Regions from separate parts of the Homo sapiens genome. Here region 1 is linked to region 2. The links come from fine-mapping of genetic effects on gene expression. A gene starts in region 2. The other region holds a variant in brackets. All regions are shown on one strand. Distances are from middle to middle.

The links.
Region 1: its variant is fine-mapped to the expression of SUCNR1 in whole blood (TOPMed, PIP 0.97).

The regions. Positions count from the first base shown.
Region 1 is chr3:151,928,297-151,937,102 of GRCh38, forward strand. It overlaps LOC107986047 (a long non-coding RNA gene), which reads right to left. Exons shown (of 3, transcript XR_001740567.1): 2 at 4,029-4,150; 3 at 2,256-2,380. Among named protein-coding and RNA genes, the nearest start is that of AADACL2-AS1, 4.5 kb to the left of the region's middle. The variant C/T (reference allele first, on the strand shown) is at 4,573.
Region 2 is chr3:151,868,189-151,876,994 of GRCh38, forward strand. SUCNR1 (succinate receptor 1) reads left to right here and starts at 5,455. Exons shown (of 3, transcript NM_033050.6): 1 at 5,455-5,518. The region is part of intron 1 of AADACL2-AS1 (AADACL2 antisense RNA 1); the gene reads right to left.

The DNA.
Region 1 (8,806 bases), 60 kb after region 2:
GGGCCAGCGGCTGCGGAGGGTGTACTGGGTTCCCCGGCAGTGCCAGCCCACCGGCGCTGCGCTCGATTTCTCACCGGGCCTTACCTGCCTTCCCGCAGGGCAGGGCTCGGGACCGGCAGCCCGCCATGCCTGAGCCTCCCACCCCCTCCATGGGCTCCTGTGCGGCCCCGAGCCTCCCAGACAAGTGCCACCCCCTGCTCCACGGCGCCCAGTCCCATCGACCACCCAAGGGCTGAGGAGTGCGAGCGCACGGCGCGGGACTGGCAGGCAGCTCCACCTGCAGCTCCGGTGCGGGATCCACTGGGTGAAGCCAGCTGGGCTCCTGAGTCTGGTGGGGACGTGGAGAACCTTTATGTCTAGCTCCGGGATTGTAAATACACCAATCAGCACTCTGTATCTAGCTCAAGGTTTGTAAACACACCAATCAGCACCCTGTGTCTAGCTCAGGGTTTGTGAATGCACCAATCAACACTCTGTGTCTAGCTACTCTGGTGGGGCCTTGGAGAACCTTTGTGTCTAGCTCAGGGATTGTAAATACACCAATCTGCACTCTGTGTCTAGCTCAGAGTTTGTAAACACACCAATCAGCACCCTGTGTCTAGCTCAGGGTTTGTGAATGCACCAATCGACACTCTGCATCTAGCTACTCTGGTGGGGCCTTGGAGAACCTTTGCGTGGACACTCTGTATCTAGCTAATCTGGTGGGGACGTGTAGAACCTTTGTGTCTAGCTCAGGGATTGTAAACGCACCAAATCAGCGCCCTGTCAAAACAGACCACTGGGCTCTACCAATCAGCAGGATGTGGGTGGGGCCAGATAAGAGAATAAAAGCAGGTTGCCCCATCCAGCAGTGGCAACCCGCTCGGGTCCCCTTCCACACTGTGGAAGCTTTGTTCTTTCACTCTTTGCAATAAATCTTGCTGCTGCTCAGTCTTTGGGGCCGCACTGCCTTTATGAGCTGTGACACTCACCGCGAAGGTCTGCAGCTTCACTCCTGAGCCAGCGAGACCACAGAACCCACCAGAAGGAAGAAACTCCGAACACATCCGAACATCAGAAGGAACAAACTCCAGACGCAGATGCGCCACCTGAAGAGCTGTAACACTCACCGCGAGGGTCCGCGGCTTTATTCTCGAAGTCAGTGAGACCAAGAACCCACCAATTCCGGAAACATTATGGCCGCACTGCAGAATACCAGGTATTGCCCCTACCAACCCCGGACATTGCCTGTCATTAGCGCTGTCACCAGCACTGTTCAGACTCTGGAACTCTTGTCTCTGCTACCTGCACTGGGACAAAAATCTCCTTTGTCCCTGTATCTTTGCATCACTTGCTCTAGAGTGGATTTCCTGGCAGGTTATATGCCTTTATCCTCGGTACTGCAAAATCTGCAAAAGCAAGCGCCCATCATTTCTTACTTTTGTGGACACCGAAAGTAATGGATAATTCCTTACCCCATTCCTTGCCCAAGAAAGGAAGGGACTGCATGTGATAGGCAGCCACCACCACCAGTGATATCAGCCTAACATATCATGTTTATATTATTCAGTTAGAAAAGGAAAAAATGGCCACTTTTAAACAACATTTATATAATAAACAGTTAAAAAAAAGGAAGAAGCTGCACAACCCAAAGAATGTAGAAGAAAGAGCCCCTCTGCTACATCTAAACCAAACCTGTTACTACTTTGCCATGTTACCTTGAACAGGACCCTTCACCTCTCTGCTCCTGTTTCATTGTCTTACAAATGAGGGGTTGGACCAAGTGATCTTAAGGTCCCTTCTTTTTTGATATTCTCTAACTAAAACATGACAGTATCAAAGGGGGAGACTAGGTGGCTTAGTCTGTGGCTTTGCCAATCAGATCTCAATTGGAAGAAACAATCATGAGGTTGAAAGCAGGTTTGTGCAAACAGACAAGAAAGAAAACCAAGGTATTTTTTAAAAATTGTATCATTTGTGCTCTGATCCAGAAAGGGAAATGGGTTTTTTTGTTTGTTTGTTTGTTTGTTTGTTTTGGAAATGGAGTCTCGCAATTCTCCTGCTTCAGCCTCCCGAGTAGCTGGCACTATCAGTGCACGCCGCCACGCCTGGCTAATTTTTTCTTTTTTAGTAGAAATGGAGTTTCACCGTGTTGCCCAGGCTGGTCTCAAACTCCTGAACTCAGTCAATCTGCCCACCTCGGCCTCCCAAAGTGCTAGGATTACAGGCGTGAGCCACCGCACCTGGCCAAGGGAAAGATTTTAAAATTCATCTCAAGGGGTAAAATATTTGTCACCAACTAGAAAGCAGAATATCATATCAGAAAAAATCACTCTCACCTTTGTCCATATGCTGGAAGGCAACTGGAGTAGCCATCTGGATTCATTCATAAAAATTTGCTCTGTTAAAGCAAAGTGGATACAAGAGCACTTGGTAAGCCAGGACTGTATTGTTTCTGCATCATTAAGGTTACTCCTGTTGTCATTTTCATTGAAATCATAGGCATCATCTGGCAGGCTTTTTTGTTTTTTTGTTTTTTTTTTAATTAAGGGCTAGGGTTTTGTTGTGTCAACCAGGCTGGAGTGCAGTGGCATGGCCATAGCTCACTGCAGCCTCAAACTCCTGAAACAATTCTCCTGCTTCAGCCTCCCCAGTAGCTAGCACTACAGGCGTGCACCACCACACCTGGAAATATTTTTTCATTTAATATTTTATAGATACAAGGTCATGCTGTGTTGCCTAGGCTGATCTCAAACTCCTGGCCTCAAGTGATCCTCTCACCTTCGCCCAAAGTGCTGGGATTACAGGTGTGAGCCACCATGCCTGGTCTGGCACTGGCAGGCTTTGGTTTCTAATGCCTAACTTGCCAGCTACTTCCTCTAATCTAATTTTTTACAAACCCAAGAAGCTCTGAAGATGAGACAAAATAATTTTTTGAAAAATTTTCTTTATAAACACACACATACATATATCAAAAACAGAGAGCCTGGTCATGACATAACATTGTATTGAAGGGGTTCTTTTTATTTTTCTCAGATCTTAGGTTTATTCATCTTTTATTTTTCACCATAGAAATCCTATGACTCATAAAAACACAGGGCCAGGAGTCCTGTGACTCTATATTTTCATAGAGAGAACATGATTTGGAAGACCAGACTTAATAATTTTACTCTGTCTCAAATTTTGAATAGTGTTTGCTTTAAAAGGCATCTTATCACCGAAAGCAAAGTGAGAAAAATGAAGTCAACATTCACTGACAATTCTTGCCACTCAACCCTTTAAAAAGATAACCAACTACATAGTTACTGAGGGGTCCTTCATTATTAGGGAGTAAGGGGAATAACTTTCACATCTCTATAGTATTTATGGATCTGACATCTGGATAATAAGGTGTTTTGTAAGTAAATCTTTCGATAACATTGTTTTAATTTTCTGAGAAAAACTCAACCTTATTATCAAAACGTATTTCACCTGACTATATTTTCCCCAAATATAAAATTTACCAATAGGAGCAATCAGTCAGTACATACTAGGTCTTACTCATTAGTATATTAATACCAATTTCACAACACTGCATAAACAAATCAGCTTCATAGAATAAAATTCTAAAATATTCTGATGTAAATTAGTAAATGTATGCAGGGAATTATTTATTTACATATTAACATTAAAACATTTGAAAAGATTACACATCAACTTGAAGTACAAACACTCTGCAGATCATCTTACATTTTCTCTTGTGCCTTCTCAGGCTAAATGTTCTTAATGAAAAATGACAAGAAAAAGGTGTGAATAGTCAGCAGTGTTAATGCTAATTTTTGAGGTAAAGGAGACAACTAGCTTCAAATAATATTTGAGTGAAAATGACTATTTCCTCAATCATTAGTCATAGGGAAAGGAGAATGAGAACACTAAAAAAAATTATTTAAATAGCACTTTATATTCAAATATTTTAATTAAAAATTCATTAAATATTTTAAACTAAAGAAGTAAAGCATTTGGAACCTAAGCTCCAGGCAACTAAAATTTGGTCAAAGTATTTCATGTACCTGTCAAATTGCAGATAAAAGTTGTAGTTTCTTTTTCTTTTTCTTTTTTTGTATTCATCTTTGGCATTTAAAGTAGATTAGCTAGTTGTTGGGTGTGGACATCTGTGTCTTGAGCTTTTCTCCTGGAAATCAATATTTATTTAATAAACCTTTTTTCTTTAAAGGCAAATTATCATCTGTTTTTTCAGGGTGGTCCCGGTACTTTCCAGTTATAAAATAAAATCGGCTGAGATTCAAGAAGTTCATTTGGCTTGAGGTTAAAAAGTAAATTTTGGCCCTTTTGAATTGAAACTTGGTTAGTCAGAACCTCTAATCATTTCCCTCTAAAAAACCTAGGGTTATTTTATTTTAGAAGGAGACGACTATTGAATCCATGAGTCACTCTAAGGCAAGTCTTAATATTAATCTTTAATTCTTTATATTAAATCTCAAAGGGCCGGGCACGGTGGCTAACGCCTATAATTTCAGCACTTTGGGAGGCCAAGGCGGGTGGATCACTTAAGATCAGGAGTTCAAGACCAGCCTGGCCAATATGGTGAAACCC[C/T]GTCTCTACTAAAAATACAAACATTAGCCAGGCATGGTGGCACGTACCTGTAATCCCTGCTATAGGGAGGCTGAGGCAGGATAACCGCTTGAACCTGTGAGGCAGAGGTTGCAGTGAGCCAAGATTGCGCCACTGCACTCCAGCCTGGGTGACAGAGCAAAATTTAAAAAAAAAAGAAAAAAAAAAACTCAAAGGGATATTCTGTTCTGTTCTGGGATCCCCAGTCTCCACTCTACACATAATATTGCACATTTCAAACCAAGATTAAGAAGGTGAACGAACTCAGCACTGGCAGAAAAAATCCCTTGACTTTTGCAAAGTCAAGCCAATTCATTCTGAGCCCATATGAAGAATATGTTATTGTTCTGATACCTTAAGCCAGGTTTTTTTCCATTATTTTTAAAGTACCCCTTTAATTAATTAGAAAAGCATAAAATTAAATTTTAAAGCATTTTGTTTTACGCAATCAATTCATCTTTAGAAATGCATAAGAGAACGTAAGGATTGTCATCCTTCATTTTACAGAGGAAAGTGATAATAATCATTTGCTGAGTCATCAACACTACAAAATAAAGCCCTGGAGAAAAGGTTAGCATTTAGACAGTCTTTGCATCTGGGGTAAGTTTAGAAAACTAAAAAAGCTGCATTAAAACAAAAAGAAAGAAAAAAATTTTAAAAAACTAAAAACAGACCAGATGTTGACTGCTGAATGTCAATGGCAACAAGAGAAAAACAACACATGTGGATTTAATGTTCTTTCTGCAGATAGAATCTCAGAAAAACATATTCTCTAAGAGATCAGACCAATTTTGTTTGAATGTAAACCACTGCCTAACACACCCTACCACATTCCTATGCCTGGAGAAACAGGAAAGATGAAGATGAATAGGCCTAACATGAGCCCAAACTTCAAGAAGAGTCAGAAAATTGCCAGTGAATGAAATAAGTAAGAGCTCACACTTCATGGATATAACTCACCACTGCCATCACACCACATTTTCATCTGCCTGTAGAAAAATCAACTAGGTATTGCATGATCTAGATATCAGTTATTGGGATAGTCATGAAAAGTATTAGTCTTGCTTTCATGTAATTTGCAGAGAATCACACAGTTGGAACATTAAAAATGGGTTCAGGCCTGGCACAGTGGCTCACGCCTGTAATCCCAACACTTTGGGAGGCTGAGCCAGGTGGATCACAAGGTCAGGAGATCAAGACCATCCTGGCTAACATGGTGAAACTAAATCTCTACTAAAAAAAATACAAAAAATTAACCATGCGTGGTGGCAAGTGCTTGTAGTCCCAGCTACTCGGGAGGCTGAGGCAGGAGAATTGCTTGAACCTGGGAGGTGGAGGTTGCAGTGAGCCGAGATCATGCCACTGCACTCCAGCCTGGGTGACAGAGTAAGACTCCATGTTAAAAAAAAAAATTGTGTTCACTATTAGCTATGTTTATTTTCAGTCTCTGAGTCTCTGCAAACCTGTTCCCTCTTACGTGACCCCTGCCTTAAATAGGGTCATCCACAACCAACCAAATTCTAAAACCCTTTCAGAAGGTACAAAAGGAAAAGCCCAGAATAGATTTCTGAAGCTGAGACTCTTCATTATATATATTATTTCTGCCTCATAACTCTATGATGCTGAATTGAAATTCTCTGGCCCTTTTTCTCAACCATATTCCAATAACTGATAAGTTGAGTCACAGGGTAATGATACAATAAACAAGATTGGAAACACAGAGTTCCTTCCTAGGAAGATTTCACAGTCTAATGCATGAAGACAGGAAGGTAATTCACTATGATAATACAGTATGGGGGAGTGCTGAGAAACAGGAATGCACAAGAAACTGAAAGCAGAGAGATGTGCACTTAACCCAGACTTGAGGGGGTACGATGGGGGTCACAGAAGTCTTCCTTAAAGATGTGACCATTTTGCTAAATCTTGAAGAACTAGTGCAAGTAAGCCATGTAAAGAAATAAAGGAAAAGGCATTCTGGGCAGAAGGAATGGCCCAAGCAAGAGCTTGTAGGCCCAAGAAAGCCTGAGAAGTTCCAGGACCTACAAGTTGTTGCAAGAGAAGAGGAACTTTGTTTTGTTCACGAATGTGTCTCTAGTGCCTCAAAAAGTGCTGGGCACAAAATAGGTTCAAGGCCTTGAATGCTTGGATAAATGAACCCAACCATTAATTAACACTGTTGGCTTTTGAATGGAGAGGCAATGTTAGAGGGGCAGAGGCAGATGGAAGGAGATTATTCAGGAGGCTTTGGCTCTAGTGCAATGTGATGGAGGACTAGACAAAAACAGTGGAGGCAGACATGGGGTGAAGCGGGAGAAGTGGAGGTGTATTTTGGAAGTATAGCAGAAAAGACCTTGTATTTAGGAGAATGAAAGGATTGAGGACTACTCCATGGCTGAAGGCATCCAGGGAGTTGTGTTTTATTCAAATCTAACAGTGGGAGTGACGATGGAGATAAATCAAAATAAGCAATAGTTATGGAGCATTAGCATTTAAGTGTAAATTGTTTAACTGATGTCAGTATTTCTTCTAATCTTACTATAATTTTGTGTCATAAGACAAGTATGTCAATATTTTGCTTAACTCTTTTAGCGAGTTTTAAAAAATTAGCGACAATAATTGTATTTCTTAGTGGCTTAGCAGAGGGTTTTTACTTTCTCCTTTTTATATGTTTGAATTGTCTGAACTTTTCACAAAGATCGTGTAATTTCAAGTTGGTCACATTCACCACACTTTATGCAATATATACATCTCTGAAACTCTTGCATAATAAATACTTGCAAAATCCAAGACTTACTTCGTTAGAGCAGAGCCAGTATTTCTGTCTGACACTTATAGTGGTGCCACTGTGGGCAACAGTACAAACACAATTATAATTCACTATCATTTTCAAATTAACATTATTTTAAAATTTATAAATAGACTTTTAAGTTATTTTGTAGTAACAAAAATTTATGCAAGTCAAATACACATAAAAGGCAACTACACTGCACTTTTACAGGAAAAAATGTATTTGCTTTTTGTACAGTTATATGTTTGAATAGAATATACCCTCATATCTTTGATTTATAATTTTTATTTGCACAGTTTAGACTCTATTCAGGCAAGGATGCCCTATCCAGGCATGGTAAGCCACCTATTGACTGATAACAAGTTGTAGGTGAATCACATAAGAGAAGAATAAAGCCCAAGATCTCCTTGACAAATCAAAATTCAAAGGGAGGGTAAATATGTACAACTATTATGTATTCATAATAATTAAAAATAAAATATTTTAAAAAGGGAGAGTGTTATATATATCTATCTAAATTTCTATATATTAAGTAAAAAAAGTATGACTACTTTTGTATAATCTTTAAACAATACACAGAATTTAAATGTTCTTATTATCTCTGTAGTTTCTATCTCATCCAGTCTCTGAGAAACCGAAAAAATGGAGAGTCTTTAACTGAAAGATGCTAGAGTCACCTCAGTGGCCATTTGAAGACCCACTGTATCTTCTGTGCCTTGAAAAGAAACCCTGGGTGATCTGTTCTTTGTCCACCTTAGTTGTATATGGGGTGAGGGGGGTGAGAGATGGTTTGAACATTTTCATTTAGCTGAATTGGATATAACTGAAGAAATAAAAAAAGAATAGATGCTGAATGAAACAAGAGGAACAGACATCCAGAAGTGAGGCACCTTGTGACTGACCGCTACCTGACCTGACACATCACACGCCATACACACAATAACTGGTTTCCACTTCTACTTCCTCCTTTAATAGAACATAGAAGTCTTTTTTTCTTATCCTGGTTCACAATCATCAAAATATTTTTTGGCTCTTTTCACTGGTAAAAAGTATCTATAATCTCTCCGATAAACTAAAAGCACTTTCTTCTTCAAACAGAATGTTACTGATGTGGGGAACATCTTGAGAAAATGCTCTACTTTCTAAAGTAGCCTTGTGACTGGTCTCAAGACAGAAACACTTAAATAGAATCCTATGAAGAGCCACCATCCTCCACACACATATCTTTTCATGAAATGTGGGAAGTGGGAGGCAGGAGAGGGCTTCAGAAACATTTTTGTGAGATGGTTTATGGAATGGAGTTTAGGTACACATAAACCTAGACAGACATACAAATATATACTTGTTTACCCAGGTTGAAATTCTGAACCTTCTGAAGTCTGTCATTCATGAGAAGGTACTTAATTATTCATAGACTGGTTACAAAAT
Region 2 (8,806 bases):
CCTTGATCAGCAACAGTTAAGAATGAAATCTGGCCTGGTGTGATGCCTCATACCTGGATAGCAAAGTGCTATCCAGTACTTTGGGAGGCTGAGGTGGAAGGATTGCCTGAGCTCAGGAGTTCGAGATGAGCCTCGCTAACCTTTTCTCTACAAAAAACCTAAAAAAATAAATTAACCAGGCGTGGTGGTGTGCACATGTAGTGCCAGTTACTCAGGAGGCTGAGGGCAGGAGGATCGCTTGAGCCCAGGAGATCAGGGCTGCAGTGAGTTATGGTCATGCTACTGCACTCCAGCCTGGGTGACAGAACAAGACCCTGTCTCAAAAATAAATAAATAAGTAAATAAAAATAAAAAGATAAAGAGAGAGAAAGAGGAAATGAAATCTGTCTCTAATTGTACACAAATGCCTGAATTTCATATACCGCTATTTCTATTCAAGGAAACAAAACAACATTATTTGTATAGAGAAACACCTGTGATTAAGGTTCAGCACATATTATCAAAAATGAATTAGCTGTGGAATTTGCATATAAACTGAAAGATAAAAGGTGAATTTGCTGTGTTTCTAGGTTAATTGTTAGTACTTCAAGGAACTTAGAATATTTTAGCTGTAGTCAGATGCTTTTAACAAATAATGTGTTTTAATTTAGCAGAACAATTCCTTTGAGTTATGCCCAGTACCAATAGATATGACACATATTTTTCTTAACTGTATAATCAGAAAAAAGTCAGTAATGCAAAAATTTCCATTAATAATGTAGCTCTTAAATGACAAGGATTTTCATAGGAAAAGGAAGTAGATTGCTTGAGTGCCTATTTTGAATAGACCATTTTCCGTGGTAAAGTAAATTTGGTTAATATAATTTATTGATTTCTAGAAGCCGGAAGAATTTTGAGACATGCACAAATACCTTCTGCTGTGTTTTTCCTTTTGCTGTTTGTCCTTTATTATTTTGCTACATGAAACCATTCATTGAAAAAGGAAGTAACCATGTAATCTTGCTTATATCTATCCAGAAACACCAAAATATCCTCCCCAATAATCTTGATTTGTTTCAACTTCTGGGGGTTGTTATTATTATTATTGTTTCTCCTTACGGGTTTAGAAGAAAGTCCTCGAATTAGATTAATTGCCCTCTTCTTTCTCTGCTTGTGACCCTTGAAGATTAGCATGACCCTTAAACCAGTTTTGTTTTCCACACAGACTTTTTGGGCTGTTAAATGTGGCTTGTAAACATTCCCAGAGACGTTGCTAGGAGAATCTTTCTATAAATACTTTAACTATTTATTTTTAACATGTTTGATTTTTATCTAAAATGTTCTATTCTTTTTGGAAGTTGGAAGATTTAAATTATTAAATTTGATAATCAATAAGTTTTATAACTAATAATTAAATTTAGTGTTAGTTTTAAATTTATTTTACTAAACTATATAAAATTGCCATATATAAGGTAAAAATGTTCCAATATCAATAATTTTATGTTTCAATCTAATATTTTCATCTTTACCATGAGTGACTCAGGAGAATAATGGAGAAGAGTTTGGATTCAGGAGTCAAACAGATAAGGCTTCAAATTATACAGCCAAATCATGTATTAGCTGTGTATTTGTGGATCATTTATTTAATCTTTATTAGGCCTTGATTTCTTCAACTGAAAATGAGTGATATTAATAATATCCACTGCATTAAATTATTGTGAATATTAAAAGAATCACTGCATACACTGTGTTATTATAGAGTGAATGCTGAAAAAATGTTAGTAGAAGTTATTATTAATTTTTTTTAGACAGGATCCCACTCTGCCACCCAGGCTGGAGTAAAGTGATGCCATCATAATTCATTACAGTCTTGACATCCTGGGCTCAAGTGATCCTCCCACCTCAGCCACCTGAGTAGCTGGGACTACAGGTGTGTTCCACCACTCCCAGCCAATTTTTTCGATTTTTAGTAGAGGAGGTCTTGCTATGTTGCCCAGGTTGGTTTTGAATTCCTGAGCTCAAGTGACCCTCCTGCTTTGGCCTCCCAAAGTGCTGGGATTATAGGTGTGAGCCACCGGACCCAGCAGAAGTTATTACTAGCATTGGATTTAATTAATATTTATATTATATTTCCCACCATTTTCTTTTTCCTCTTGAATTTCCTGATTAGTTTGCCTGGTTTACATGAACTGCTCTTCAATTTCAAGCCCATTGCATTTTCAAACATTATATAATTTGATACTATGAACATTATGAGTTTGATGGGTAGGAATTATTATTCCCCTTTTCCAAACAAGGAAATCAGGTTATGTGATTTTTTTTCAAAGATCACACAAACTAGTAAAAGGCAAAGCCAGGATTAGAACTCACTAATCTTTTTATCATGTTGGCTTTTATAAGGACCTTTTAAATGGATATTTCTGGGCAGCAAGTATTCTAACATCAATGGCACTGAATTACCATTATTATTTTAGAGAAAGTCTTCTCTCATTCATTATAAATTTCTGTAATAGCCAACAATTATTTAGCAACTAATATGTACCTCATATTATACAGTGTACGTATATACTAGTACCTCATACTATGTAGCATATGTACTTCTGCTATATACATAACAATTCATAAGATTGGTAACTCTCATTATCCCTGTTTTACAAATACAAAAACTGAAAGCTAGTGAGTAGTGAAGCCAATATTTGAAACAAAGCAGTTTGCCTCCAGGACCTATGCTCTTAAACACTGTGTTATACTACCTCTTAGCAAACAGTACTACAAGCTTTTAAAAAATATATATTTTAAAAAGTGTTCATTGTTGTACTTAACTTTTTTTTTTTTTGAGACAGGGTCTCACTCTGTCTCCCAGGTTGGAGGGCAGTGGCACAATCATGGCTCACTGCAGCCTCGGCCTCCCCAGGTTCAGGCCATCCTCAAGCCTCCCGAGTAGCTGAAACTAAAGGCACGCACCACCATGCCCCAGCTAATTTTTGCATTTTTTGTAGAGACAGAGTTTTGCCACTTTGCCCAGGCTGGTCTCCAATTCTTGGACTCAAGTGATCCGCCTGCCTTGGTCTCCCAAAGTACTGAAATTACAGGTGTGAGTCACCATGCCCGGCCAGTACTGCAAACTTTCACTGCCTTTCAAACTTCCATTGATTCTCAAGCAGTGCATCTCAACATGTTATATGTAAAAAAAAAAAAAAGACAAAACAAAAAAACTTTGCCCCCTCAAAATTTGATGTGCTATACTGAATAGAAATAGTTTCTGAGGAGGTTTCTACTCTCACAGGCAGAACTGGCTACATATTTAGTAGAGCCCAGTGCAAAAGAAATATATGGGGTCCCTTGTTAAGAAGTTATGAAACATTTTAATTAAGAATGTGACAGTAGAGCATTAACTCAACTGTGTGATCTTTTTTGAGTGTGAAGCACTGTGAGACTACACAGTAGCATACCATGAAACCCACCCTGCTCACAGGGTCATAATTCTGAATCCAGCCTTGTTCCCGTGCAGCTATCATTTTGCAGACCTGCATAAAGCTTTGTAGCAGAAATACTCGTGACCTTTTAGTAAGTCTTTCCCAGTAACACTCTAGTATCTCAACTGAGAGCATTCGGAGGAAACAGGAAGTAGGACTTGGGAGGGAAACAAGGCTACCAGGCTACAGTCTAGATGACGTGTTCTATGAAAAAGGAGAAGCATAGACCAATTTTTGTCTTAGCAGCCAGAGTGAGATGGTAGTCAGGAAGTGGGACGAAGAAAGAGGAAGCTCTCGGGAACTCCCACCACCCCACAAAGGGGGAATTACTCTTTTCTTCCATCAGAATGGTGGCAGAAACCTGTGAAATACATCCATTTGTCTTTGTTTCTTGGAAGGGGTTCATGTTAATTTATGTCTAAAATTAACAAGCCTGGCATTGGTTATTCAAATGCTTTTTGCCCTTTTAAAAATATAGACAAAAATAATGTTTTAACCTTTCTTCCTTCTAAAAGTAGAAAAGAATTGCATTACTGAAAAATACCTGTTATTAATTCTTAGACTTTGTTGTGCACAAGGGTATTGTCATTCAATTCTGTAGGCAGTCAAGAATCAGAGTCGGTGCTTTTAGAATCCAAGTACATAGGCTTAAGCTCTGGTCCCTCCCGTTATTGATTCTGCAATCTTGAGAAAGTTAATTGACCTCTCTGAACCTTAGCTTTTTAATCTGCAAAATGAGAAAAATCTTAAATAATAACAACCTCAGAGGATTACTATATGCATTTGATGCATAAAGGTACTTAGTGTAATACCTGCCTGCCACATCACAAGAACTCAACAAATTATAGATATTTTTATTTCATGTAAATGCACATGTTTGTATACATAAATATTCATACATGTATAAATATATTTTACACATGTATATAAAGTGTGTAATATAGACACATATGTATGTATATATGTATGTGTATATATACATACATATATTTTGAGTTCCTGAGTTTTTAAGCTGTCAGATATTGGTGAGGAGAAATGCTTAGTTAGGAGGATGCCTGTAACAGAGCTTCTTTTTGGGCTTCTGCCTGTCATTGCTAACTCAATATTCAACTTACATAGCATTTAAATTGAATTACTGCTGCCTGCACAATTATGGGCTTTCTTAGTATAATCCCTATGCTTCACATCAAGAAGACTGAGTGTTTACTTGAATCTAAACCTAATATAATGCTTGGAAAAAGCCAGGTGTGCTTCCTGTCTGAAATGGTGGTAATGTACTTCCAGATGTTTTTCAGAGCATTGATTGGGATATATAAATTGCCATCTATTAAGGTTATTTTACTTAGCATCTCTCTCCCTAATCCCTAGCTATCTGATGTATCTTTTATGTGTTTCTTGATTTTAAGCACAGAAAATAAAATGGAAAATAACTTGAAGCTCTAGTATCTTTTTGCTAGTACACCAACATAGCATATATCCAGGTTTCCCTTTAAAATTTCAGTTTTATAGTTCCCTCAAAGTTATTGAAAACAGAGGTTTCGTTATTATATTCTCAATACAGAATTCACTAAGAAAATTAATTTTAAAAAAGAAGAAAAGCAGAGGCAACTGTATTCCCAATATAAGCAGTATTTACCACTTCTTATTGTGTAAATATGCAAATAAAATGAAAATAAGGAATGCTTCTCTGTTGCTTTGGTAGTGGATAAAATAAGTTCAACAGTGTTTTTCTAAAAATCTATTTGGTAAATGTGTTTCCTGTGAAATGAGTTACTTGTTTTTTGTCATTCAATTGCAAAACTGCATGTGAAAATAAAATAAATGTGAATGTGAAAATAAAAGCCTCACAAAAATTCCTCTGCATGAACATCTCTGACTGGGAGGTTTGACTGAATAAATTATTCCTGGGCTTTTGAATTATTAATCTTGGCTGCAGGATATGCAAATAGGATATGCAAATAGGACACTGTAATAACCATGTCCAGTGGCACAACACTGGGTCAGAAGCTATATCCAGCTGCTGGCAGAGTTCCTGTCAAGGGATCAAGTCTTCCAACAGAATGGTAAGCTACATGGCAAATTGTGCCTCTCAGTGTATAAAGTAAGGCCAGATTTCCTTCTAAAGGTGACCTGTGAGCAATTAAGGTTTTCAGTATTAAGTGTTTAAATTAATTCTTTATAAATAGATGTAAAACAGCAAAATAATTGAAAAAAAAAAGTCATTTTTATCTCTACGTTTATTTTTCAACAAATTAACTGTCTTCTTTTAGTTGTCAAATACTAATTTTATTTTATGTAAAAGGATTTATTATATTTGCTAACATCTCAACAACTTATATTTCAACAAAATAGTAATTGGATTTACCTAAATAAATATAACTACTTATGGGGAAAAATTAAAGTTCCTAAATGATTTGAAACAATCATGTATTTGATACATACACACACACACACACACACACACACACACACATATACATACATATATATATATATATATATATTTTTTTTTTTTTTTTTTTTTTTTAAGACAGAGTTTCACTCTTGTCACCCAGGCTAGAGTGTCTGAGTGCCAGAGTGACACATTTACAGCATGTGTTGGCTCACTGCAACCTCCGCCTCTGGGGTTCAAGCAATTCTCCTGCCTCAGCCTGCAGAGTAGCTAGGATTACAAGCGCCCACCACCACGCCCGGCTATTTTTTTTGGATTTTTTAGTAGAGATGGAGTTTCACCATGTTGGTCAGGTTGGTCTCAAACTCCTGACCTCAGGTGATCCACTCATCTCGGCCTCTCCAAGTGTTGGGATTCCAGGCATGAGCCACTGTGCTGGGGCATAATATTTTTATGTTTAGAAAATAATGTATTTGGGGGAATTTTCAGGCATCCTAAAAATTAAATTTAACATTTATGTGTGTAAAAATGATATTACCCAATAATTAATTTACTTAGGAAAAATGAAAAATTGCAGAAACCATTTCTATTCTACCTTCCATAACTTTTCAAAATGTGTGTGGTATTCTTAAAGAAGTTAATACACAATTTGTGCCATACTATTACTTTTTAATACCTTAATTTCTGGTGTAATGTATGGAATACATAAAAATAAAGTTACAAATGTTAAATTATTATATCTTTTCAGTGTGAATATATATTTTTGCTCAAATTATTTAGTAATCAAAAAAGTAATTTGTTAAAAAAAATTCTCATGTTACCATGTAAATTTGCCTTAAGGTAGCACTTAAAAGTAAACATTTTACAAATGTTATTTGTTTAATTGTGATGACTATAAAAACAAACAATTAAAAAGCTAAGAAACTATCACATATATATTTTAAAGTAAATTTCAAAAATGCAGATTTTCAAAAGGCTGAATATATTTAAAGTAAAAAACATTTTCAAGTTAAGTATTATTGGTCTGCTTATGTGAGTAAATTAGATATTGCTTCTAGTTCAATAATTCTAACAGTTTTAGATATATTTTTGGACTGGAAACTAAAGATTTCACTTTAATTTCTGCTCTTAAAAAATACCTATTCAAAATAATTCATCCAAATCAGTTACAATTTATTTATCACTATTTCCATTTCCTAAAAATTAAGAATATAGCCACTAGATAGCAGAAGAGAGAATATGAATTTTTCATGAGGGAATTTTCTCTTTAATTGGGAGTTTTGCTTAAAGGAGCAACTTACTTCATATGTTTATAGAATTGCGATGCCACACTAAAAACATACCCAACTATAAACATATCCAATTTGAAATATAGTATCTTCAAAATTTTGTATCCTAGTGAAGTTAAATTGGTCTGCAAATATTGCACAGCTCATATTTATAAAATCATAATCTATTAGAATTATGAACTTAGAAAAAATGAAACAAATGTATCAAAAAATTATAAAACATCATAAAAAAATCTCATTTTTATGAATAAAAATTCAGGTAAATATTAAAATGTAAAAGGGTACCCAAATATTAGGAGTGGTCTGTTTACAGACCATTTTTATTTCTTATTTTTGCCTATTTGATTTTATGAGTGTTACACCTTAACAATAATTTTACACATACATTTTTAAAAAGTTGTTTCAAAAAAATGAAGAAACAACTGTATGAGAAGAAAGACAAATATGATAATTTAGTCATTCATTTCTCTTATTTCAGCTCTACTCCTTCCCTACTACTCCTTCAATCCCCGACCTTCTGGGCTACTATAAAGCAGAATGCTCCTTGACTTTCATGTGACCCGTCACCTGCCTGAGTGATAGTTGCAGGAAATCAGGCTCTAGTTGCACAAGTCTTTGTGGCTATATTTTCCTTCCATTGCAGTCAAATCTTTCTGCTGTGCACAATACATAAGCTATTAACATTACCAGTGGTGACTAGGCAGAAAGATAAACGTTATGACCAGAAAAAAAGGAAATGCAAAAGTGAAACAAATTTCTTGTGTCAAGGAAACTTTCTATACCTTAATTTTCATTTGAATTTGTGCACCAGCTTTTTGAGTACCCACAAAATAACAAGAGCTCAGAAATAAGGCCTGAGAAGGTCCAACATTTAAAACTTGGGCAAAGAAGGATTAAGCCACAAAAGAGCATGAAAATGGAGAAAGGAGGAAAACAAGGAGATTGTTGTGTCATAGAAGATAGGAAGAGAGTGCTTCCAGAAAGTGTGGACTTAAAAGCTACTGAGAATAAATAATAATAGTAAAAACTGACCATTGAGCTAAAAAAAATAAAGTTTGTTAATATGTTAAAGCCTATTGACATTTTTGCTATATTTCTAGAAATTTAAAGTTTTTAATATTATCAAATAGATGCCAATTTTGAGAGAAAAAATGATAGGAAATTTAGATAAAAGGAGAAAGGAAATAATAAAAACTACCTGAAATCTCATCATTAGAGATAAAGCTATTAACATTTTGATGCACGTCTTTCTAGACTTCTTATGCTTATTAATTTCAGGTGTCATTTCTTAATTAAATGCTTCAGTTTTAAAATTTATCCTGGTAGATATTTAATTTTGCCTTATACAAATGTGTTTCTAAACTACAGCTACTACTACTACAATTACTAATTTTTAATACTTATCATATTATATTATATATAGTGTTGACTTTCACAGTGAAATAAGCAATGAGCTTAATCTGATGGTCTTGCTGCTTATCTGGCCTTGGAGAAAATATTTATAAAAATGCTTTGTAAATAGTCAGGTGTTCATATTCATCTCTTCACTCAACAAAGATTTATAGATCACCTACTATCTGCTGGTCACTGTGCCAGATGTGGACAATAAAAAATGAGTAAGACAAAGTTATACAAAATTCTAAGAAGTTTAGTATACAATGAAAGCATAA